5 linked regions of the Homo sapiens genome follow. The protein of the gene in region 1 purifies or fractionates together with the protein of each later gene. This does not show direct contact. Each region holds a gene or a part of one and is shown in the gene's direction. Other genes may lie near its edges. The genes, in order: MXD1, SAP130, SUDS3, MNT and KDM5A.

Region 1 (5,314 bases):
CCAGTTAACCACTGAAACCAGAATATGCCTATATGTCAGGCATGATTTACTACATGTTTATTCTATTTATTGAGTTGATTTAATTTTAGTGGGTTTGTGGACATTAAAAAATACATGTTTAATATTTCCCACCATAATTACATTTACACCTTTGTCTTTCTTTTTCTTCAGTACTTGAGTTGTCAGTGTTTTGTGACTCAGTCTGGAAATCTGTTTAAACCACCTTGTCTTTATACAACTACCAACAGGAGGATTGGTAATTTGGGCTCTGGGTGAGACATACATAGGTTCAGTTTCCATGTCTGCAGCTGAATGCATGACAGGGAAAATCATTTAGCCTCCCTGGGCCTCAGTTTCTTCACGTGCAAAATGTAATTAACACAACCTACCTCATGGGGTTATATTGAGGATTAGAGATAATGTAGGTAGGATACCTACACATAGTAAGCTATTATATATTGGCAACAATAATAAACTTTTAAAAAAAGAAATATGTTCATGCTTTACTCATTTGTATTTTGGGGACTCAACCTACCAAGAACTTTATTTCTACTTTTAAAATTGGAGATGTCTGTCAGTACATTGGCAGTGTAGCTTGGTTTGCCAGATAGCTTTCATTTCAAAAATTTTAATAGGTTTAGGGACCGATCTTTAACCTTTTTAGTTCTGTATACGTAACATTCTATTAAGCATTTATATTGGTACCACCCCATGCGGAAACACACAATTTGCAGACGTCTTAAAGAGTATTCTTGGCCGGGTGCGGTGGCTCACGCCTGTAATCCCAGCACTTTGGGAGGCTGAGGTGGGTGGATCACCTGAGGTCAAGAGTTCGAGACCAGCCTGGCCAACATGGTGAAACCCCGTCTCTACTAAAAATACAAAAATTAGCCGGGCGTGGTGGTGGGCACCTGTAATCCCAGCTACTCAGAAGGTTGAGGCAGGAGAATCGCTTGAACCCGGGAGAAGGAGGTTGCAGTGAGCCGAGATCGCGCCATTGCACTCCAGCCTGGGCGACAAGAGCAAAACTCCCTTTCAAAACAAACAAACAAAAACAATAATCTTGTGAGTGTTTTCATCTAGAATTAAAAGGGAGGGGAAAACCCCAAAAGAGATTTAAGCAAAGAATCTTAGGGTTTAATGCCATTCTGTAGGTTCAGGAAGTCTCTGAGCTTTAAAAAGCCGCTCGCGTGAAAGTAATTAATTATTCCATCACTTCCCGGGGGTGGAGGGGGGTGCGGAAAAGGCGCATGAGCTCAATGCTGTATACTGCAGCCCGATTCCAGCTCTTTCTTGAGGGCAGAAAAAACGCCGAGCGGCGAGCATTTAACAACGGCCGGCTTTTCTTCTCAAGCCCCGCAGCAGCCACGTGGCGCCTGCCCTAGCTCCCGGCTCACCGGCCACTAGCCTGCACCGCTCTTCGGGAGGATTCGAGGCTGGGCCCTCGCCAGCCCGAGTTCCGCGAAGCCCAGAACCTCCAGGGCCGCGGCCACCAGACCGAGGGCTCCGGCCCCGAACCCAAGCGGGGCAGAGCGCCCAGGCGACACGAGGTGCCAGCCTTCCATTCGATGGACGCCTGGCAGGTCCCCGGAAGTTTTCCCCGGGGACAGGTCTTGGCAACAGGTCCGAGGCAAGGCCGGGTGGAGCAGAGCTCCGCAGCGGCTGGTGAATCAGCGCCGCCCAGCGCCGGACCGGCCCTCCCAGCCAATGCCAGACCCGGTGAGGAGCAGCCAGGCTGCTGACCATCAGCCACTTAGGGCTCGCCTGGCCTGGAGAAAGGTGACATCATCGTAGCTGGGAGGTTTCCGAAGGCTTCACCAATGGGAGACCGGCGAGGTGCTTGCCTTCTGCAGCTCTTGGCCAATACTAACAAAGCAAAAGGGGGCCCGGGTTGTTGGTATAGAACCAATGGGAAACAAGGAAGGAGCACGAGGCGGAGTTGCGAATCCTGTCACCAGTTGGAAAGAGGGGGTGGAGCCCGGGCCTTGTCAAGTGTGACCAACCAGCGAGAGGAGCGGACTTTGCGGGGTGGAGCCCTGAAGCCCTCTCCCAATCGCACAAGTGTAGGGGCGGGGCATTCTTTGGGGGGCCCAATGAGGAACGCGGCCGAAGCTGGCCTGTCAAGAGAAGGGGCTGGGGGCGGGGAGATGGTGAGTCGGGGATAAACACTCCGCGGCGGTGGCGGCTGCTGCTCTGCTCCGGGTTCTGTCACTGTGTCGGCGGTGCCCAGCTCACTGGCCCCCTCCCTCTCTTGTCGAGCGTGGTTGCCAGAGAGGCTCCCTCAGCCCTGCTCCGCGGGGTCCACAGCGGGCTCCACAGCGGGCTCCATAGCGGGCTCCACAGCGGTCCGGCGGCGGCAGCGAGCCCGTGGGCAGTGGGGGTTGGTCCCGTGGCTCCGGCCCCCGGTGCAGAATGGCGGCGGCGGTTCGGATGAACATCCAGATGCTGCTGGAGGCGGCCGACTATCTGGAGCGGCGGGAGAGAGGTGCACGGGGACGGGGAGGGGTCCACTCGAAACGAGGCCGGGGGTCCTGTGGGGCCGGCCTCAGGTCCGGGCGCCCAGCCGCTCCGGGGGTGGTTGGAGGCGGGGAGACCGCGAGCGCTCCCAACCCCTCTGGCTCTCCCCACGCGCGGTCCGAAGGGAAGCCGCCGCTGCCCCAAAGCAATGAATGGGGTGGAGAAGGGGCTGCCGCCCGCCGGGGTCCCGAACGCCGCCCCTTCCCCAGCCCTTCACGAGTGGGTGGCCGGGGCCCCCTCCGATAGCCTCCCTGGTTTACCTCACCCGGGCTGGTCCCGGCCGGCCCCCAGGTGGGCCCGGCGCCCCAGTCTCCTGGGCAGAGGAGCAGCGCCTCCCGGTCCCCGGCTCACGGTGCTTGCCCCGCACCTTCGCCTGAGCTGGTTCCACTTAACCCGCACCAACCTGCTGGATGTAGCCAGTGGGAAACCCAGGCTGCGTGAGCCTAGCCACTACTGTGTCTTTCTCAACAATGAGCAGCTGGAATCCTCCTTACACCTGCTCCGAATTGACGATATTCACACAATTTTTTTTTAAATCATTGTTCTCAGAATTCCACCTTACTCCATTTAATTATTTCCACAATATTCTTTTAAAGATAAATAAAGGAAAAAGGAAATACTGTAGAGAGGAGAGAGCATTAAATATTCTGGGCCCATTCATTAACTGGATCCTCCTGTTTTCTAGAAGCTGAACATGGTTATGCCTCCATGTTACCATACAATAACAAGGACAGAGATGCCTTAAAACGGAGGAACAAATCCAAAAAGAATAACAGCAGTAGCAGGTAATTTGGTAAATACTTCTTTCTGTCTTTTAGATTATATTGTAGGTGACACAAACTGCTGAATGTAAGTTTTCTGTTGTGATTATAACCCTATAAAATTACATTGTGGCCGTCATGATTCAGTAATGTACACATGGACTTAAGCCATTGCAGGAAGCTGTTTCTGTTTGGGTTGAGGGAACTGAAAAGAAAAATAGAAATGTTTTACATTTCTTTATGAACTTTATTCAAAATTTAATTTCACTTTTCTTCCCTTTTGGAACAAAAAAATCTGTGGAAGCTTCAAGTGAGATTAGCAATGGTGACAGTATTTTCCCTTCAGAAGTTGCAGATTCAGGGCAAGTTTTCTATAAGTCAAAATGCTGGACATTATCCATTTCTTTTACTTTTCATAGTAATGATTTTATAAACACATTAAAGTACCTGACTTGGCATAAGTGATAGGATCTCATACTTGACATGTAAATTAAATACAGTGGTTTGTTTGATACTCTAATTTGTCATCTCTATTTGTAATGGCAAAGAGGAATGATTGAGGTTAAAACCTACCTCTTTAGTGATAGAGGAATATATAATACCAAAATATTAATATGCTACAACTTTTCCATGTTAGCCTTATCGATTATCTTATACCGTAGTTCTTAAAAGCTGTGAATCTCACTGGAGATTTGGTTCATGGTCAGTTAAATCACATATTAAAGTCCTATGCATAGTTTCTGGTACATGCAAATAGTCCATCAATGTTGCTGCCCGTTTCCCCCCTTCTTTGCCCTTAAAATATAGTTGGCTAGGAAATTTGTTCTATTAGATCCCTTCAACTATACCTTTCCTGCCAGTAAATTAAAAGCATTGACCTTTTCGTCACTAGTTTAGAATCCTTATCCCTCCCTCACCCTCATGAATAACTCCTTGCAAGTATCTATTTGGATATCCTCTGTGGCTTAATACAGACCAGGAATTTCCCACTTAAACCTAAAAATCACTTGTTCTTGCTGCGTCTTCTGTACTTGGTTTACCTCTTTAGTATCGTTAGTGGAACCACAGGATGTGAGCAGCATTACTTGTGCCATGCCCTTGAATAAAAATGGCACTTGAAGGATCAACCTGGTAATTACCTGGTAGGTTTTGCTTGTCCTCCCACCTTAGCATTACCTGAAGGTGGTAGCCAGTAGTTTTGTGCATGGGTATGAAGGCACTTTAAGAAAGATGTTAATACTGACTTGTAATATGCAATGGTGTAAAACCAATTAAGCTGTGTTGCATTTTGTTACAATATTTTTTTAATTTTGTTTAGAAGAATTTTGAGGCCTTTCAGTTAATTTTTCTGGAAAAGCATCATCCATTTTTGCTTTTATTATTGTCCACTAATGATTTGAGAGGAATTGTCCAAGTTACTTATTGAGGCTTAATACCTTAACACTTTGTTTTTTTCCTTAGTTTCACAGGAAGGTTGTAGGGGATGTTCACTAGTGGGGATAAGAAAATGAGATGTTGAAGTGGCTTGGTCCCAAAAGGTGATTAGGAAAGAAAAATAATAGTAGTTAAGAATCTTAAGCCAAGAAATGGATTCTTTCTAGTATCTTCTCTTTAATAATCAGTACTATGCCAAAAAAAAAAAAATAAAGGCTACAAATCCTTCTGTTAATGGGTTGGTTTGCTTTCCATGGTTAGAGACGGGATTATCACAGTTGTCCATACACCTGACTGATAGTGAGTTAGTGTAATATATTCAGTGGTGTAAGGATTTCTGAGAGACCATGATTAAACCTAGAGGTAGCACCAGCCAAACGTGTGAGGCAAGAGCAGGCAGTTTTCTTTCAGTGTGATCATTTCCTTCATGACTCATTTGGAATAGCTCCTTTTCTGAGGAACAAGCAATCATAATGGAGAAAGCAGCTTGACCCCATGGTTTGAATCGGCTTTATATCCTCAGCCATGTATGGTCAGAATTTTGAACTGAGGTAAAGGATAGGGAGAGATTACTGCTGGTTTACATAACCCTTGGATAACAG
Region 2 (4,616 bases), about 58 Mb from region 1:
TATGTAATATCACACTGTGTCAGTTACATGTGATTAAAATTGAAATATATCTAAGTTCTGGTATCCAGATCCAAAATATATGGAACAACTGTGGTGTAAGACCTAAATTTAAGATTCAGTGTTATGTGATATTGTGACATCTGAAATAGGGGGAGCCTCAAACGGCCTAACCGAGAGTCCCTCCTCCCAACTCTGCTCCCTCAGATGAAGTCTCCTAGGCAAACAACCCTTCATACCACAGGGACCAGGCACACAATTCCTGCTCCTTGCTGAGTAGTAGGCTCCAGTTCCCTGCCAGCTTCCAGTATTCCAATTTCCAATGTTACTCAGATAAGCCAGTCACACACATCATCATTCAGAGACCGGGGCATACCTCTCCCTCTCTCCTGTTCTTTTTTTTTTTTTTTTTTTTTTTGAGACAAGGTCTTGCTCTGTTACCCAGGTTGGAGTGCAGTGGCACGACCATGGCTTACTACAGCCATGATCAACCTGCTGGGCTTAAGTTAATCCTCTCACCTCAGCACCCCCAAACAGCTGGGACTGCAGGTGTGAGCCACTGCACACAGCTGATTTTTTAAAATTTTTTGTAGAGGCCAGGCACGGTGGCTCACATCTGTAATCCCAGCACTTTGGGAGGCCGAGGTGGACAGATCACGAGGTCAGGAGTTCGAGACCATGGCCAACATGGTGAAACCCCTGTCTCTACTAAAAATACAAAAATAAGCTGGGCGTGGTGGCAGGCGCCTGTAATGCCAGCTACTCGGGAGGCTGAGGTAGGAGAATTGCTTGAAACCAGAAGGTGGAGGTTGCAGTGAGCAGAGATCATGCCACTGCACTCAAGCCTGGGCGAAAGAGCAAAACTCCCTCTCGGGGAAAAAAAAAATTGTAGAGACAGGGTCTCACTATGTTGCCCAGGCTGTACTGTGTCTTAATTTTTAACAAGTATAAAAAGTTAAAATTTTTTTTTAATAGAACATAAGGGGCCAGGTTCAGTGGCTCAGGCCTGTGATCCCAGTACTTTGGAAGGCTGGGGCAAGAGGATTGCTTGGGCCCAGGAGTTTGAGGCCCACCTGGACAACATAGTGGGACCCTGTCTCTACAAAAAAAAGTGTTTTAATTAGCCGGGTGTAGTGGTGCACACCCCCTAGTCCCAGCTACCTGGGAAGCTGAGGTGGGAGGAACTCTTGAGCCCGGAAGACCAAGGCTGCCCTTAGCCATGATCGCACCACTGCACTCCATCCTGGATAACAGAGTAAGACACTCTCAAAAAAAAGGAAGAAAACAAAGTTTATAGAATAAAGATACAAAGAAAGAAAATATTTTTTGTAACCGCCCAACAGTATCCACATTTGTCCAACAATATGTGTTTTAAGCTAAGTTTTATTGCAAAGGAGTCAAAAAGTTTAAAACAATTTAAAAGTTTATAAAGTAAAAAGAGTATGCTACGGTTAATTTGTTATTGAAGAAAGAAGAATATTTTTAATAGATTTAGTGTAGCCTAAGGGCACAGTGCTTATAAAGCCTACAGTAGTGTACAGTGATGTCTTAGACCTTCACATTCACTCCCTGCTCACCCACTGACTCACACAGAGCAACTTAACAGTCCTGGTAGACTGCATTCATGTAAGTGCTCTTTACCATTTTTAATCTGTCATGCCGTATTTTTGCTGTACCTTTTCTATGTATAGATACGTTTAGATACACAAATACTTAACACTGTGTTTCAGTTTCCCGCACTATTCCTTGCAGTAACATGGTGTACATGTTTGTAGCCTAGGAGCAGTAGGCTCTATCATATAGTCTAAATATGTGGTAGTTCATAACATCTAGGTTTGTGTAAGTACATTCTGTGATGGTCACACAACAATAAAATTTCCTAAAGACATTTCTCAGAACGTATCCCTGTCATTAAGCAGAGCATGACTGTATTTGTGACTCATAAACTGCTGTTAATCTTATCCATCCAGTGTTGGATCTTATATGTTTGGCCATTTCTATAACCCTAGGGCAAGAATCCCTCCTTCACCAGCAGGTGAAGAGGAGGCAACAACCTCATAAAGTTTTTCCTCTTCAGTAGCAGTGACCTGAAGAACATTGTCTGTTGTCAGTATCTAAAAAAATGTAGTGCCTTGGCTACTTCTGACTTAGCAGAAATCACTTCTATGAAACTTGGAGACTTGTGTTTCAGAAGAATTGTGGATTCAAGGCAGTATTCAAAAGTTATCCTTGAAGATAGGCTCTGAACTATGGCAAATTATAATGTAAATCTTTGTTGATCAGTTTCCTTTACTGTTTTTATTTTATTTATTTATTTATTTATTTATTTTTTAGATGGAATTTCGCTCTTGTTGCCCAGGCTGGAGTGCAATGGCGGGATCTCAGCTCACTGCAACCTCTGCCTCCCGGGTTCAAGCGATTCTCCTGCCTCAGCCTCCCGAGTAACTGGGATTGCAGGCATGCGCCACCACGCCCAGCTAATTTTGTATTTTTAATAGAGATGGCGTTTCACCTTGTTGGTCAGGCTGGTCTCAAACTCTGGACCTCAGGTGATCCACCCGCCTCGACCTCCCAAAGTGCTGGGATTATAGGCGTGAGCCACCGCGCCCAGCCCCTTTACTGTTTTTAAACCTTAGTATCTTAGTCCTTAGGAGAAAGGACGTTGTCACCCAAACAACTCTTAGACAGTTTACAAAGGTGATTGAAGGTGGGTTCATTTGCCTGGGGTTGACATAGAAAAATATTTCCGAGCTTATGATACCCTCCCTTTTGTGTGTTGCAGACGAATCTAGAACATGATGTCTATGAAAGACTTACTAACCTGCAGGAAGGGATTATCCCAAAGAAAAAAGCAGCAACAGATGATGATCTCCACCGAATAAACGAACTGATACAGGTTTGAGTGCGCCCCTTCCCTTCTGATCATCTACTTTATGAAGTTGCTTTCTGTAAAGCCCTACTTCTCCCGTTTCCCCCCGTCTCCCTCATATCTTCAGTAAAAACATACGTGCTTCAGCCTGCACTCCTGAGAAACAAAAAGACATTTTCTCTGTTGTGGAAGCCTCAACATGGCCTCTGCCCAAAGGCAAGCAGTTTTTTAAAAGCTGTACTATCCTCATGGTCACTGATTGATGATGCAATGTCTTCTGTTTCAGGGAAATATGCAGAGGTGTAAACTTGTGATGGATCAAATCAGTGAAGCCAGAGACTCCATGCTTAAGGTTTTAGATCATAAAGACCGTGTCCTGAAGCTGCTTAACAAGAACGGGACTGTCAAAAAAGTGTCCAAATTGAAGCGAAAGGAAAAAGTCTAGACCCAGAACAATCAGGAGATTGGAAGCAAATTTATGAAGAATGATGGTGGGGGTGGGGGGAGGGTTTTGGTTTTTTCCAAAGTGGAACATTGAAATAAAGGAAGTGTTCCTTAGTTCCCGTGTGAAAGCAGAGGAACCCATGACATCCAAGGGCGTGAAAGGATCAGAGCTGACTGGACATAGTGAGCTGCCTTCTTGCGTTCGGGTGCACCCCTGTTAAACCTGATCTGTGTCATAAGTGACTCCGGATGCATCAGTGTCCACCAGTTGGAAGCAATGACAAGGATGGCTGGCTGGTGTTTTTCAGCCTTCCGGTTTATAGACTGTATTTATCTAGTGGATTCCTGCAGGCCCCATACTGAGCCTGGACTGAAAGTATCCACTCGGACCATCTGTTATCTCTCTACACTGAAAATAAAACCTCTTCCACCCACCCCATTCGGTTCTTCTGCCTGACCTTCAAATGCCCATGTTGGCCTTTTACAGCAGTGCCACGGCACCAAGCGAGCTGCCACATCTCACACTCTAAAGGGTTTGAACTATTAGTTCTTGTCATTTTTTAAAAAAAACCATTCCCAAGTGAAATTGTTATATCGTCTGTCTTGCGTGTGTCAGAACTGGGTTTTTGTGGAGGTTCAGAGCAGGCAACACCATAAGTTGCTCTCAGATCCTTGTTCTGAAGTACATTCTTGGTTATCTGTACTTCTGTAGCTGGTGTGATGCTGTTAATTGTATGTACCACACATCTCCAGACGTTAATAAAGGACTCAAAGAGGTTTTTGTACTTGCGCAGTTTGCATCTTTTTGTAAAGTGAATCAGTGCCATACTGACCCTCACTGAAATGTTTACCCTGCTTCAGTTTTTCACACATTGTTGGGAGCCTACTTTGTTTGTTGAAGTTATGCTGTTCGCATAGAGTTCCTCTTAGAGGGTAGTCTAAATATGCTACAGTGGTGAAACCTGTTGGATCTTGGCTCCCTTAAATACGAGCCTGTATTGTGGCCCAGTGCGGATAAAAATTGGTCCGATTACAGGACTATTAAGGCTGCAGTACTGGGGGCGGAGCTTTCGGGCGGGTGGATCCTCTCCACACATTGCTCTTCGTCTGAACTAACCTGAGTGGAAAGGCAGCTCAGATCGGCTTCCTTTGGGCACAAGACCAACCGTCTCCATCTGGCCTCCATGTAACAGACCAGGAAAGATTTTTCTCAGAGGCTTCTGCCTCTGCAGACACGACGTGACCACCCTCCTTCCTTAGGACACCTGCTTTCAGCTACCAGGTTGGGGCTAGAGTGCTTCCCTTT
Region 3 (4,616 bases), on another chromosome or scaffold:
TCTTGATAGTCAAGTAGCTACAAAAGGTTATAGAGAAAAAAAATCCGAGTCTGTAAATGAAAACTTCGTATAAAAATGTTGGCACTGAGGCCAGTGGCCTCTAAAAGAGCCTTTCATACCAATGGGCTTCAGCACACCCACCCTCTTTGGGAGCTGCAGAAATTAGTCAGCTGAGATGACCTTCAGGTTCCTTCCTATCCCGAGAGCCTGTGACTCTGGGCTTCTTAATTTGAGGGAGAGGAGGAATATCCCCTAGGTTTTGAGGGTGCTGGAGAGATGCCCACAGTGGCTGTAATGCTTGACGGTAGGGCTGCATTTCTGAGAGGGGTGTGCACTTAGGGCAGCTGGTCTGAATCTTACAAGTATAAACGCTTTCTAAAATCTAATGGGGTGTCTGGCTACGACCATGTGTAGAACAAACACCCCCAGTAAAACAGTTCTGATTGGGTGGCTGGGGGGCAGATATTCTTATACTATAGAAATTCTTACTGACTTCAAGTGGGAGTTGGATAGATTTACCCATTCCATTCTTGCCACAGATTCTATGGAGGTGAAACCTATCATGACCAGAAAGTTGCGGAGGCGACCAAATGATCCCGTCCCCATCCCAGACAAGAGGAGGAAACCTGCTCCAGATATCCATTTACATCAAGCCTTAACCGCCTTTCTTTTTTAAGACTGTGGAATCCTATGTTTATCCGTTTGCTAGGGTACACATGGCCGTTGTCCTACAGAAAATAGTAACATTTAACTGGAAAGCGTGTGTTAAATGTTTGTCCACAGGTCAGGGGTTGCTCATTTTATCATGGTAGTCCTCATTTGCTACTGCTTTTGGTGGGAGAGATGTATAGAGTTGTGATTTGGAAAGGTGCTTTGCATGCAAAGTTCAGCCTGGTTTTAATGCTAACATCAAGATTCAGGGGCATCTGAAAACTTGATGTGCCTTAATTTTTTCACCTGTAATTTTCCACCTTCCAACTGTAAAATGAAGGCAGTAATATCTACCTTTATGTACCTCTGTTATCTATGTCCATAATGTAGTGGATTGCAACCTGTTTTTAAATTAAAGCAAATGAGATTTCAGTCAGACATAAAGCAGCCCTTTAATCATAAAAATGGTAACGGAAACAGGAAAGATGGAGAAGCGTTGTTTCTGTTCCTTTCGAGGAGATGGTGAATAGCTCTCTGCCCAAAATGGCTTAGTCATTTGTGTACCATCAGGAAAGGGCATAACTTCAGGTTGCTTCTCCTTCACAACAGGAGTTAAGTTGCTGAGGGAAGATTGGCCTTACCTTGGGTGAGTGTGTGTGGAAGTCTTTAGATCTTTGGAACAAAAGCGCTTTATACATTCATGATGAAATTCTTATTTTACTGTTTCCTTTGCTGTGTTATTGTAGATGCCTAATGAAGCTCATTCCACCTTCTCATCCTAGCAGTGGGGGATGTGAATTCTTTTATGTATTGAAGTACCATGACATTTAGTAGGAGAATCATAAATTTCTAAGAAGCAAACTGTTACTGTAGAAACATCATTTAACAAAATCATACTTTGTAAATTCTAAAATACTGGTACCATTGTGTTGATTACTCTTTGCCTGGAAACTGTACTTTTCACATACAGTCCTTTAACTCTCAACACCCCAGCTAAACTATTTGTTAACAGATGAACAGATCATGGAGGATCTGAGAACATTAAATAAGGTACGGTTTGACTTTTTTGATTTATTTGAAAACTCAGGCTTTTGTGGTTTTCTGATTTTGTTTGTTAACATGTTACTTGTTAATCATTATGATACCTTTGACACCTGAAGTTGCACCTGAAATGATTTTCTCTAAGATTTTTTGTTGTTGTTCTTCCTACAGCTTAAGTCACCCAAGAGACCAGGTGAGTGCATGATGTGTTGGCATTTGTGCAACCTTTTTATCATGTTGTTGGAAAAGGGTGTGAATACCTGTCAGGAAATGGTTGCAATTTTCAAAAATGAAATGTTCATCATTTGCCTAAGAGTAGTCATCATGAAAACTGAAGGGGACCTTAACTATACCCCTCCCTGATTTCTTTTTTTTTCATAACCCCTGCTTTGTTGTTTTTATTTTTTTCTTAGGATTTATCATAAAAGAGACATTTGATTGATTGATTGATTTCCTTCTGTGTAGGCATCAGGCATAAGATTTAAGTACACATCCATTTTTGAAAATGAAACCAGAAGGATTTTTAAGTATTACTGGCTTTCTAAAGCCAAGTCCTAGGCAGTTCTGCTCCCGTGGCTTTTCGTGGCCTGACTCTGGTAAGGCATTCCAAGGCTGCTCTGACTCGCAGTTCATAGAAGAGACCAACCAGCTCAGTATTCATAGTTGTTCCTTCCGGAACAGCACTTGAGATCATCAGTGCTAGCTGCCAACTAGAATTCTGAATTGGTGACATCTTTTTTTTGTTTAAAGCACCATGATTACTCGATTACTCGATTACTCACACATCCCTCTACTTACTGAGTCTTGTGGAAGAAAACAAGAGTCTTCTTTTTCTAGGTAATATCTTCCTGGGGGCCACTGCGGTCCACAGACATCCTGACCTTCTGAGGCACGATGGGGAGGGGTGAGGGAGTTGTGTGAGTGTAAAGTTAGTAGTTCTTTAAGTGATTCCTTTTTTTTTTTTTTGGATTATGGAGTCTTGCTCTGTCGCCAGGCTGGAGTGCAGTGGCGTGAACTCGGCTCAGTGCAACCTCCGACTCCCAGGTTCAAGTGATTCTCCTGTCTCAGCTTCCCAAGTAGCTAGGACAACAGGCATGTGCCACCACACCCAGCTAACTTTTGTATTTTTACTAGAGATGGGGTTTCACCATGTTGGCCAGGATGGTCTCATCTGTTGACCTCGTGATTCACCTGCCTCAGCCTCCCAAAATGCTGGAATCACAGGTGTGCGCCACCGCACCCTGCTGAAAACGATTGCATTTTTAAGAGATTTTCATAATACTTGCCCTTTGATCACCAGGGCTTTAGTCCTACTCTAAGTGACCTTATGTATTTGCACATTTGACCTTAATCTTCCTGAAACCCAGGTGTCTCTTCCATTTGAGAGGCTAATCTGCCTTGCCTACTTCCCAGGGTTGCTTTGATGATCAAGTTTAGATGGAATATACAAGAGTTTTGCTGAAATCCCATGCATTATCACTGTAAGGGCTCAGTGATGATTATTACCACATTCTGATAGTGTTTCAATTAAAGCATGTTAACTGGTAGACTCGCATGTGTTTGTTACATTCTTAGTCACGTAAGTATTGGTTTCCTCCAGCATCTCCATCCTCTCCTGAGCACTTGCCTGCAACACCCGCGGAATCTCCAGCCCAGAGGTTCGAAGCTCGGATAGAAGATGGCAAACTGTACTATGACAAAAGATGGTATGTTATGGGAAAACCTGGACTAGTAAGAGTCTCATATGAACCACTTGGAAAGAGGGCTGGGGCTATTGTAGTTATTTCAGATCACGGCTGCTGCTAAACTTACATAGTACTAAAAGTAGAAACCCATTAAAAAATGTATTAGCAGTCATTTAATCAATACTTCCGGTGGATCTTTGAAAGCAGCGTTTCCCAAAACCATGTTCTGCTCCCCTTCCTTCTCCATTCTGGTGTCTCTGTACTAGAATTTGCAGGCTGGTATCTTGTGTGGTACCCCTGCCAACTGGGGCTGGGGTGTATGTCCCCCCTCTGACCCCTCTTACCTCTGCTCCTGTGTGCTAAGGTTAATAGGTGCTCTTCGGATTAAAGGATTTTGTGGTCAAATCAGTTTGGGGGATGATCATGTTAATTAAGATAAGTGGGTTGCTCCCTTGTAGTACCCTTTGGGTCCTGCGATATGCTAATGTACACTGTGAATTTCTAAGATGTTATTAGATGTTTTTTGATGACACATACCCTTTTTTCTTACATGATCCAGCTGCAAAAGTGGTCAAGGACACTTGCTTGGGGGAACTGTATCCTAAAACATTCCTAGTTTGTTTTTTGTTTTTTGAGACGGAGTCTTGCTCTGTCGCCAGGCTGGAGTGCAGTGGCGTAATCTCGGCTCACTGCAACCTCCGCCTTCCAGGTTCAAGCGATTCTCCTGCCTCAGCCTCCCGAGTAGCTGGGATTGCAGGCACCCGCCACCATGCCCAGCTAGTTTTTGTATTTTTAGTAGACACGAGGTTTCGCCATGTTGGCCAGGTTGGTCTCGAACTCCTGACCTCACATGATATTACTGCCTTGGCCTCCCAAAGTGCTGGGATTACAGGCATGAGCCACTGTGTCCTGCATTCCTGGTTTACATTGAAGACTCTTTGAAACGTTCAGACCGCCTAGCATTTTTCATTGGAAAGGTAATGGCAAAACAGTATGAAAGAACCTTAAAAGCTCATACTTTTGTTCATTCAACAAACATTTCTTCTGTTCTGTATTACGCTTTCTGCTAGATATGAAATGGATACTGCCATCATTTCTCAGGTCTTTTCATTCTGATATATTTCTTTTTATTCTTTATCCATATGCAGGCATAGTCTATTCATTCTAAGGCATAGTGGACATACGGTTTGCTTTGCCTTTCTGTTTGGTTATATTGAGAATGTTTTTCTGGGTTACTGT
Region 4 (4,616 bases), on another chromosome or scaffold:
CCCCTGGTGACCAAGAATGTCCTACGTTTGGGCACAGGGGTCAGGGGAAGACCGTGCACAAGGTTCGGAGAGATTAAGTCACCTGCTGCCGCCATCAACACGTTGCAGTTCGAGTACGCACTGTGTTTAGGCCGAGTTCAGCGGCCTGGTCACGACTTCTGTGTGCCGGTCAGAGGTCTTTGTAGATGAGTGGGTGCGGAAAGCTAGATCTACTCAAAAACTCATGTACGGGTGTCCGGAACCGATCCCAGCAGTTTCTCCTCCAGAATTCATTTTCTTCTCCCTCTTGAGGTTCTGTCCTCTGAGCTGGGGCAGGACGAATGGAAGGAAGGGCATGGCAGGTGAACCTGCTGACCAGAACGCTTTCCCGGGACCTAGGACCAGCTCTGGACAGGGATCCTCTTGTCCTTTCTCCCTTTCAACCGCAAGCATGGGTTTCTGACCTAGACCAGCCAGTTTGCTCACATGAGGACCCCGCAGATGTGTGTGCCTGTGAGAGAGAGGGGAAAGGGCAGAGCTATCCTGGTGCCCAGACGGAAGGCCTGGCCTGGTCATTTCTAGTGTTCATAGAGGTGGCTCAGATGCAACTCTTCTGCCTTGTTTCGAGGGAGTTGGTTGGAGTGTCCAGAGGCTCCTGACCAACTCTCCAAGGCTTACCCTGGGCCTGCCTTAGGCACCAAGCCTCCTGTTTAGCGTGCAGATGGGAGAATTCCTGTGGCTGCTGGGGCCCACCAGTGTGGACTCCTCCACCCCTAGCCCTGTGCCTGCAGAGCACCTGGGCCACAGTCACTTGGGAAGGTTGAAGGGAGCACGCTGGCTCTGCTCTTGACTGTGGGCGGAAGCCTTGGCCCCTGGGTCACTGCAGAGGGGCATGCTAAATTCTTTGGGGGCAGCCTCTGGGTGGAGCCCAGGGAAGCATGTGAGGGGGCGCACCCTGTCTGGTGGATGTGCAGAACATTCTTTTAAAGAGCCTAAGCGCAGGGTGCTCCTGAGGGAGCACCAGCCACCACCAGTTTGGTGGTTCTCCAGTGCACAGGGAGAGGGTTGCCGCTGGGTGGGAAGGGACAGGAAGCTCCGGTGGGCTGGATCTGGCCAGGGGCAGCTCCTCTTCCTCACCACCTGTGGAGCTTTTTCATGCTGCTCCAGGTGTAACTGGGTCCTTCCTGGCACCTGTGAGGTGTACCGGCGTGGTTCTGGGTGAGAGAGGGCAGGTGAGAAGGAGGTTGCTACCTCCCAGGTGAGCTTTGGGATTGCTTTAAAATATGGGGAATGGGGGTTGGCTTGCACTCTAGGGTCCCACATGTCCTTGTGACTCAGGGAGGGCCCTGATTGTTCCTCTGCCTATAAAGAGTGGAGTCCATGTCTCAAGGCCAATGAAAAGTTAGGTCTGTGTCAGCCAAAGGAATGGAGGCAGGGTCTGTGTTAGGCCCTGGGATCCAGAGCCTTGTCTTGGGGTAGGGGAAGGGGCTGGGGACAACTGAGGCTGTGCCCGACTGAGAAGGGCCCTGTCACTGGAACTCAGCAGGCTGCTTGGCCACTGCGGTCTGTGGGAAGCGGGAGCGCAGGGCTGGTTTTCTCCCGGGCGTAACCTAAGGCCTCCCCGCACTGGAGCAGGCCTGCACCGGCCTGGCATCGCCCCTTCCCGAAGGGCTAGGGAGATCTGGAAGAGGCCCGCTGGCTGGCCCAGCCCCTGAACTCCGGCTGCTGGGAAACCACTGAGGCTTCCCCTCCCAGGACGCTTCCCCCTCCGCTTCCTCCTCGGCCTCTTCCCTCTGCAGGAGGGCGGGGCTGGGAGCAGGCCTGGCTCACACTCCAGTTGTTGATTGGCCAAAGGGCCTGAGGCCTCAGGTTTTCTGGGGCGCCTGAGCCAGTAAGAGTGTGGGAGGTGGGTGCTCTCCTCCCCAGGGGGCCTTAGCCGACTCCAGTCCCCCACGCCACCCCTTGCCCGGGTGTTTGGGGCGTGTCCACGAGCCCGGGCTGTCTGCTGCGTTCGTCAGCGGAGCGGGGCGGGCGTCCGGGGTCAGAGGAGAGGGCTGCTTGTCCCGGCGGCTCCCTGGCCTGGAGTCTGCAGACTCCAAGGGCCTGGGCCAGCCCCGTAGCCAGGGAACCAGAATGGTGGCGCCTGGGAGAGGACGAGGCAAGCGGGAGATGGAGGTGCCTCCCCTTCCCCTGTTGGCAGCCAGCTCCTGAGTGGGCCTTGCCTTCCTGCTGGGCTTTCAGCAGGGATGCTGAGCGGGTGGTGGGGTGCACTGCCCTGCTCAGCCCCCATTGAAGAGCCCAGCCCCTTCTTGTTTGGGAGAAATGGTCGCTGCTGTACCTCCTCCTCCTCAACTGCCCTCTCTCACCCAGAACCAGGCAGGTGCACTTTCCCCGGTGCCTGGCTGGAGTGGTTGGGTATTTGTATTGTCTCAGGCTGAGCGGGGTGTCACTGAGGATGTCAGAGGATGCTTTAGGCCTGAAGGACAGGACATGCTGGCGCTGCTGCTGGTGGTGGGGATGTTGGGGATTTGGGGAAAATGAGTTATAACACGAGAAGGGTCAGAGAGGGACGAAGTGTGTTTGTTGAATGGTCCCTGAGGAAAACAGGCATTGGGACCTAGCCTCGGAGTCAAGAGTGCTGGGCTGTTTCCACATGTGTGAAATGAGGGTGATGTCCCTGTCCTGCCCATGATGTGACGTGGGGCTCTTGTGAGGATCCAGGGACTGTCAGCACTTCCTTGTGAGCACGGCAAGCGTCCTCCAGGGGTCAGGAGGCTTGCTGTGGGACCTGCAGCGAATCACTTTGCTCCCTGAGCTTCACTGACTTCATCTGTGCCATGCAGGCACTGCCTGCCCTCTAGAAAGTGCTTGGTAAACATTGTTAAAGGCCTTCCACGGAAGCTGGGATCTGTCAGCACACCCCCCCCTCTGGTGTGAAGTCTTGGGTGGCTGGGCCTCTGCCCGCCTCTCCCACCTCGGCCCTGTGGTCCCCTGACCCTCGCTGCCCTCACCCGCCTTCCTCCTCACCCTGCAGGCTGGCAGGTGGCCTGCAGCACCCTCTGACAGCTCTGCTCCACCTTTCCAGGGCCGCCTGTCCTGCCCGCAGCCCGGACTGTCAGCCCCCGTGACTGTCAGCCCCCGTGACTGTCCTACTATTCCCTGGTGGCGGGGAACAGGTCTGCTTGATTTGTTCACTGCTGTGCCCCCGGCACTTTCCCCCGTGCCTGGCTGGGCTGGTAGGCTATTTGTGGTGTCTCTCGCTGAGCAGGGGTGTCACTGAGTACTGACTGGGCTAGGGTCAGAGGACGAGTTAGGGCTGGAGTTCTGGGGCCCCGCTGAGACCCTCCCCCCCTTGTGTTCTCTCTGTGTAGAGGAGCAGGAGCGGCTTCGCTTGGAGCAGGAGCGAGAGCAGGAACAGAAGAAGGCCAATAGCCTGGCCAGGCTGGCACATACCCTTCCTGTGGAGGAACCCCGCATGGAGGCGCCACCCCTGCCTCTGTCTCCACCGGCTCCCCCGCCGGCACCCCCACCACCACTTGCCACCCCTGCCCCACTGACTGTCATCCCTATCCCTGTGGTGACCAACTCCCCTCAGCCTCTACCCCCACCCCCACCCTTGCCCGCGGCAGCCCAGCCTCTGCCCCTGGCGCCTCGTCAGCCGGCCCTGGTTGGCGCCCCCGGACTCAGCATTAAGGAGCCTGCCCCCCTGCCCAGCAGGCCGCAGGTGCCCACCCCTGCTCCCCTACTGCCGGACTCGAAGGCCACCATTCCACCCAATGGCAGCCCCAAGCCTTTGCAGCCCCTCCCCACGCCTGTCCTGACCATAGCGCCACACCCTGGAGTCCAGCCTCAGCTGGCCCCCCAGCAGCCGCCCCCACCCACGCTGGGGACCCTGAAGTTGGCACCAGCTGAAGAAGTCAAATCCAGTGAACAGAAGAAGAGGCCCGGGGGGTGAGTGGGGTGTGGCGGGGTCGGGCTGGTGGGGGATAGGAGAGGTGCCCATCCCCCGGGCTGTGTGCAAGACAAGGTGCCCTCCCCAGCTTAGAAGTGCCCCCTGTATTTGAACACGTCATCACTGTGCCCATGTCTATCCTGGGAAGGAATGTCCCATTGCCCCCCGTTCCCAGGCTTCTGTGTTTCCTAACGCAGTCCAAGGCTGAGGCTTATGGCATTCCCAGGCCTCTGGACAGAGTATGGGCCTCTTGGGTGAGGGCTGGGGTCAACCGGCTGCCTCTGAGTCCCAGGAGTCCTCCTGTCTCCCTCCTGGTGGGACGGAGGGTGACAGGAGTTGTGATTATGAGCACAGATGTGTCCTCCAGGGGGTGGGCGCAGCATGGCACAGGGCGAACGTCTCCCAGTCTGCTTTAAGACAGTGTTGGGGACAAACAGCCTGTGGCAATTTTGCGGGTGGCGGCGCTGGTCAGGAAGGCCGTCTAATCGAGTCCTCCTCCCTGAGCCTCCTATCTGTCTGGGTTTCAGGATCGGAACCAGAGAAGTCCACAACAAATTGGAGAAGAACAGGTGTGTGTGTGTGTGTGTGTGTGTGTGCGTGCGTGCGTGCGCGCGCGACCCGGGCCCCGGCGGCCCTCGGCCCCAGCTTCCCCGGTCCTGCCTCCCCCCGTCCCAGCCCCGCCCCA
Region 5 (4,616 bases), on another chromosome or scaffold:
TCTTTTTCTTTTTCTTTTATAGAGATAGGGTCTCGCTCTGTTGCCTGGGCTGGTCTTAAGCTCCTGGGCTCAAGCGATCCTCCTGCCTCAGTCTCCCAATGTGCTGGGATTACAGGTATGAGCTACTGCACCCAGCTTGAACAGATTATTTTTTTCATTGTATTAATGGTATGGTATATTTTTTCTGTTAACTACTTAAGTGGAAATAAGTGTAAGGAAATGATTGTTTATTGGTAGCATGTAAATTCACAGTCAGGAATGATGGTGATGCCAGACAACCACAAATTGTCCACACTGGTGGCTGAGCTACTGACACCTTTCTTTTCTGACGGTCCAGTATACACAAGCGTTATGCACCAGATTATTAAAAATATTGCATAAAATTACCTTAGCCTATGTATAACTTTATATGAAACAAAAGAATTTTGTATTTAGGCTTGGTTCTTTCTCCAAGATATCTCATTATGTATATGCAGATATTCCAAAATATGGAAAAATCTGAAATCCAAAACACTTCTGGTTCCAAGCATTTCAGATGAGGGATACTCAACCTGTATTAAAATTATTTTATCGAAAAGAATTGCTCATTCTGTCTCTATAATAAAGAAGACTTGTAAGTTAGTCTATTAGCACCATGATTTGTGGCAAAACCCCCCTTTAAGGGAATAATTAATGCATTCCTTGTTTACATACCACTGTGTTTTTTTAAAAAAATCTTTCTATTTAGGACTGGCAGCCTCCATTTGCCTGTGAAGTAAAAAGCTTTCGTTTCACTCCAAGAGTCCAGCGCCTGAATGAACTTGAGGTAAGTGTTTTGTCACTATTTCTGCTTCCTGATTCATTCTTTATATTAGGGCTGTAGGTAGAGAACTTTGAGAAGCTCATGTACCACAGCCTAGAGTTTGTGTTAATTGGTATTGAATGGAATAGTTACTTGATGTTTGGAGGAAGAGTATGATTTTTTAAAAACTGTGCAAAGTTGTTATGGTTTTTCCATTTAACTGAGAAATGTTCAATGCTTAGCTTCAGAGACTTAGAATTCTTAAATTCTACTTTCTCTAGTGTTTCTTACTCTACTAAAATTTTTGTTAATCTTGGAAGATTTCTTTCTCCCTCGGTTCTTGGAAAATGGATTTTTAAATCCTATTTTAAAACCCTAGTTTTCAGAGTTTGTTTTGTTTTGGTTTGGTTTTGGTTTTGGTTTTAATGGAACTTTGCCAGGAGTGTTAATCTGATTTATTAAGATTTTAAGTATTACTTTTTAATTACTTTAAGTATTATTTTTTAATTACTTTAAGTATTACTAATTTATCTTAAATTTTCTAAATGGAAGTGTACGTTTTGCTGTTTTTTCTGTTTATGGGTTTTCAGAAGGTTCTTCATTGTGATATGAAAACTTTTAGAGTACAGAAGGAAAATTATTGATAGCAAAGGTTTATTATGTCATTCTGAAGTTTTTTTTCTTTTCTCCCCAAAACATTTCTGAGAGTTTAATACATACTTTTTTTTTTTTTTTTTTTCCAGAGAGTCTTGCTCTGTCACCCAGGCTGGAGTGCAGTGGTGCGATCTCGGCTCACTGCAACCTCTACCTCCCGGGTTCAAGCGATTCTCCTGCCTTAGCCTCCCTAGTGGCTGGGATTACAGCGACCATGCCCAGCTAATTTTTGTATTTTTAGTAGAGACGGAGTTTTGCCGTGTTGGCCAGGCTGGTCTGGAACTCCTGACCTCAGGTGATCTGCCCGCCTTGGCCTCCCAAAGTGCTGGGATTACAGGCGTGAGCTACCGCGCCTGGCCGCAATGCATATTTTTTCTTTTTAGTCTCTTGTAATTAGATACTTGACAAAGCATATTAGTATCAGTGAGGTATAGAGTTGATGCACCTAAAGTGTGCATGTTACATATGGATGAAATGACAGAACGTTAGAGACTGAAGAGAATCCGATCTACTGAATTTTCTGATCAGCATAGAGTTAAACCAACTTACAAAAATTGTTTTGGTTGCTAATATGACAACTTTTTACATAAATCAGAGTAACTTTTTTGCCTGAATAAATATAGTTTATTAGAAGTCTTTTGCCTCTTTATTATTGGCTAGTTTTACTATTGGCTAGTTTTACAGGGTTGAAATAAGCAATAATGAAAAAAAGTCTTTGAATTTCTTTAGAGAAATGAGTACCTCTATTACAGCTGTCCCAAACCTTTTTGGCACCAAGGACTGGTTTCATGGAAGACAGTTTATCCATGGATGGATGGGGGTATGGAGGATGGTTTTGGGATGAAACTGTTCCACCTCAGATCATCAAGCATTACTTAGATTCTCAAAAGGTGCTCACAACCTAAATCCCTCACACGCAGTTCACAATAGGGTTTGTGGTAATGCTTGCCCGGTTGGTTGCCCACTGCCGCTGCTCACCTCCTGCTGTGTGGCTGGGTTCCTAACAGGCCGCTGATGGGTACTGGTCCACATCCTGGGGTTTGGGGACCCCTGCTCTGTTATTCTTATTCATTTCAATCATAACTTAGTTCTTCTGTATTTTAATAATCTTAGGCAATGACCAGAGTGAGATTGGATTTCTTGGATCAACTAGCAAAATTTTGGGAACTTCAAGGATCTACTCTGAAGATCCCTGTGGTAGAGAGAAAAATCCTGGATCTGTATGCTTTGAGCAAGGTGAGGCTCATACTGGTTTAGAAATTAGAGCACAGGCTTGTGAATTTAGGAATATCAAATAGATTTGGTAGGAAACATTGCTTCCAATAGAGGATTTGTTTGACAATGAAATGCACTAGCTGGGTATGGTGGCGCATGCCTGTAATCCCAGCTACTCGGGAGGTTGAGGCAGGAGAATTGCTTGAACCCAGGAGGCGGAGGTTGTGGTGAGCTGAGATCGCGCCATTGTACTACAGCCTGGGCAACAAGAGCAAAACTCGGTCTCAAAAAAAAAAAGGACAATGAAATGCACATTTGAATAAATGGAAATGACAGTTCTCAAAGTTATCTTTAAAACTTATTTTATATTTGTTGAGATCAATATTTAATTACTAAATATTAATATTTATCAGGCTCTGTGATATACAATATGCAAAATAAATTACTCTAGCCTGCTAATGTTATCTTGTGCTGAGTGTACAATGTTCTGTGTTGAGCTTGTCATCTTTTTTTTTGTTACTTAATTGAAAATTTGGGCCAGGCACGGTGGCTCATGCCTGTAATCCCAGCACTTTAGGAGGTTGAGGTGGGAGGATCACTTGAGCCTAGGAGTTAGAGACTAGCCCAGGCAACATGGTGAAACCCTATGTCTACTAAAAATACAGAAAAGCTAACTGGGCATGGTGGTGCACACCTGTAGTCTCAACCACTCAGGAGGCTAAGGTGGGAGGATCACATGAGTCCGGAAAGTCAAGGCTGCAGTGAGCTGTGATTGCGCCACTGCACCTCAGCCTTGGCCACAGGAGTTAGACCCTGTCTCAAAAAAAAAAAAGAGAAAATTTGGCATATTAAAGAAACTCATGTTTCTCAGCATTCTTATGTGTGGTATATATTAGTTTTGTTAATACGTGTATGTAGTGTTAATGGCTGACTGAGGCCATCATTATTCAGTAGGATGACCAAACAGCTCAGAAACTTAAGGGTGAAGAGTTTAGACAAGTTTTTGCTGAAATTGTGTTAATTTTTTAACATTATATTCCCTAATGTGAAAAAAAAAAACTAACTGACCTGCAAGCTGAGATTATAATAACCTTGAGATATGTTTTTTTCTCTTTTTTTTGAGATGGAGTTTTGCTCTTGTGTCCAGGCTGGAGTGCAATGGCCTGATCTTGGCTCACTGCAACCTCTGCCTCCCAGGGTCAAGCAATTCTCCTTCCTCAGCCTCCCGAGTAGCTGGGATTACAGGCATGTGCCAACACACCAGGCTAATTTTGTATTTTTTAGTAGAGATGGGGTTTCACTATCTTAGTCAGGCTGGTCTCGAACTTCTGACCTCGTGATCCGCTCACCTTGATCTCCCAAAGTGCTGGGATTATAGATTACAGGCGTGAGCCACCGCGCCCGGCTAAAATATGTTTTGTTACTACAATAATACAAATTTATTATTGCTTAATTATCTGGGAATTTTGTAAAACAACTTCTTCTTGTGGCCTTTCATATCTTATAATTTATATACTATTTTGAAATAAAAATTTATTCTTATTTAAATTGCAGTTACTTTTAGAAGATTTCACTTTTTTTTTTTTTTGAAATGGAGTCACGCCCTTGTTGCCCAGGCTGGAGTGCAGTGGTGCCATCTCGGCTCACTGCAGCCTCCACCTCCCGGGTTCAAGTGATTCTTCTGCCTCAGCCTCCCGGGTTCAAGTGATTCTCCTGCCTTGGCCTCCCAAATACCTGGGATTACAGGTGCCTGCCACCACACCTGGCTAATTTTGTATTGTTAGTAGAGACAGGGTTTCTCCATGTTGGTTAGGCTGGACTCGAACTCCTGACCTCAGATGATCCACCCGCCTCAGCCTCCCAGAGTGTTGGGATTACAGGCGTGAGCCACCATGCGTGGCCAGGAAGATTTCACTTGTAAGGAAAAACATGAGAATAATTCGTGGCATGTGGTGGCTCATACCTA

Evidence for each region.
Region 2: the proteins of MXD1 (region 1) and SAP130 purify together in Homo sapiens (affinity purification with mass spectrometry; 3 studies listed by BioGRID and IntAct, with this or other methods). This does not show direct contact.
Region 3: the proteins of MXD1 (region 1) and SUDS3 purify together in Homo sapiens (affinity purification with mass spectrometry; 3 studies listed by BioGRID and IntAct, with this or other methods). This does not show direct contact.
Region 4: the proteins of MXD1 (region 1) and MNT purify together in Homo sapiens (affinity purification with mass spectrometry, with the first as the bait; one large-scale study listed by BioGRID). This does not show direct contact.
Region 5: the proteins of MXD1 (region 1) and KDM5A purify together in Homo sapiens (affinity purification with western blotting, with the first as the bait; one study listed by BioGRID). This does not show direct contact.

The regions. Positions count from the first base shown.
Region 1 is NC_000002.12:69,912,919-69,918,232, forward strand, and holds the start of MXD1 (max dimerization protein 1), read left to right. Parts: upstream 1-2,190; 5' UTR 2,191-2,412; coding exon 2,413-2,485; intron 2,486-3,202; coding exon 3,203-3,302; intron 3,303-5,314. UniProt on the Homo sapiens protein: Component of a transcriptional repressor complex together with MAX. In complex with MAX binds to the core DNA sequence 5'-CAC[GA]TG-3'. Antagonizes MYC transcriptional activity by competing with MYC for MAX binding.
Region 2 is NC_000002.12:127,940,701-127,945,316, reverse strand, and holds the end of SAP130 (histone deacetylase complex subunit SAP130), read left to right. Parts: intron 1-2,779; coding exon 2,780-2,893; intron 2,894-3,152; coding exon 3,153-3,311; 3' UTR 3,312-4,095; downstream 4,096-4,616. UniProt on the Homo sapiens protein: Acts as a transcriptional repressor. May function in the assembly and/or enzymatic activity of the mSin3A corepressor complex or in mediating interactions between the complex and other regulatory complexes.
Region 3 is NC_000012.12:118,400,120-118,404,735, forward strand, and holds part of SUDS3 (sin3 histone deacetylase corepressor complex component SDS3), read left to right. Parts: intron 1-539; coding exon 540-635; intron 636-1,639; coding exon 1,640-1,701; intron 1,702-1,863; coding exon 1,864-1,885; intron 1,886-3,292; coding exon 3,293-3,398; intron 3,399-4,616.
Region 4 is NC_000017.11:2,394,189-2,398,804, reverse strand, and holds part of MNT (max-binding protein MNT), read left to right. Parts: exon of another isoform or gene 1-16; coding exon of another isoform or gene 17-113; intron 114-3,350; coding exon 3,351-3,930; intron 3,931-4,458; coding exon 4,459-4,500; intron 4,501-4,616. UniProt on the Homo sapiens protein: Binds DNA as a heterodimer with MAX and represses transcription. Binds to the canonical E box sequence 5'-CACGTG-3' and, with higher affinity, to 5'-CACGCG-3'.
Region 5 is NC_000012.12:382,086-386,701, reverse strand, and holds part of KDM5A (lysine-specific demethylase 5A), read left to right. Parts: intron 1-727; coding exon 728-805; intron 806-2,548; coding exon 2,549-2,671; intron 2,672-4,616. UniProt on the Homo sapiens protein: Histone demethylase that specifically demethylates 'Lys-4' of histone H3, thereby playing a central role in histone code. Does not demethylate histone H3 'Lys-9', H3 'Lys-27', H3 'Lys-36', H3 'Lys-79' or H4 'Lys-20'.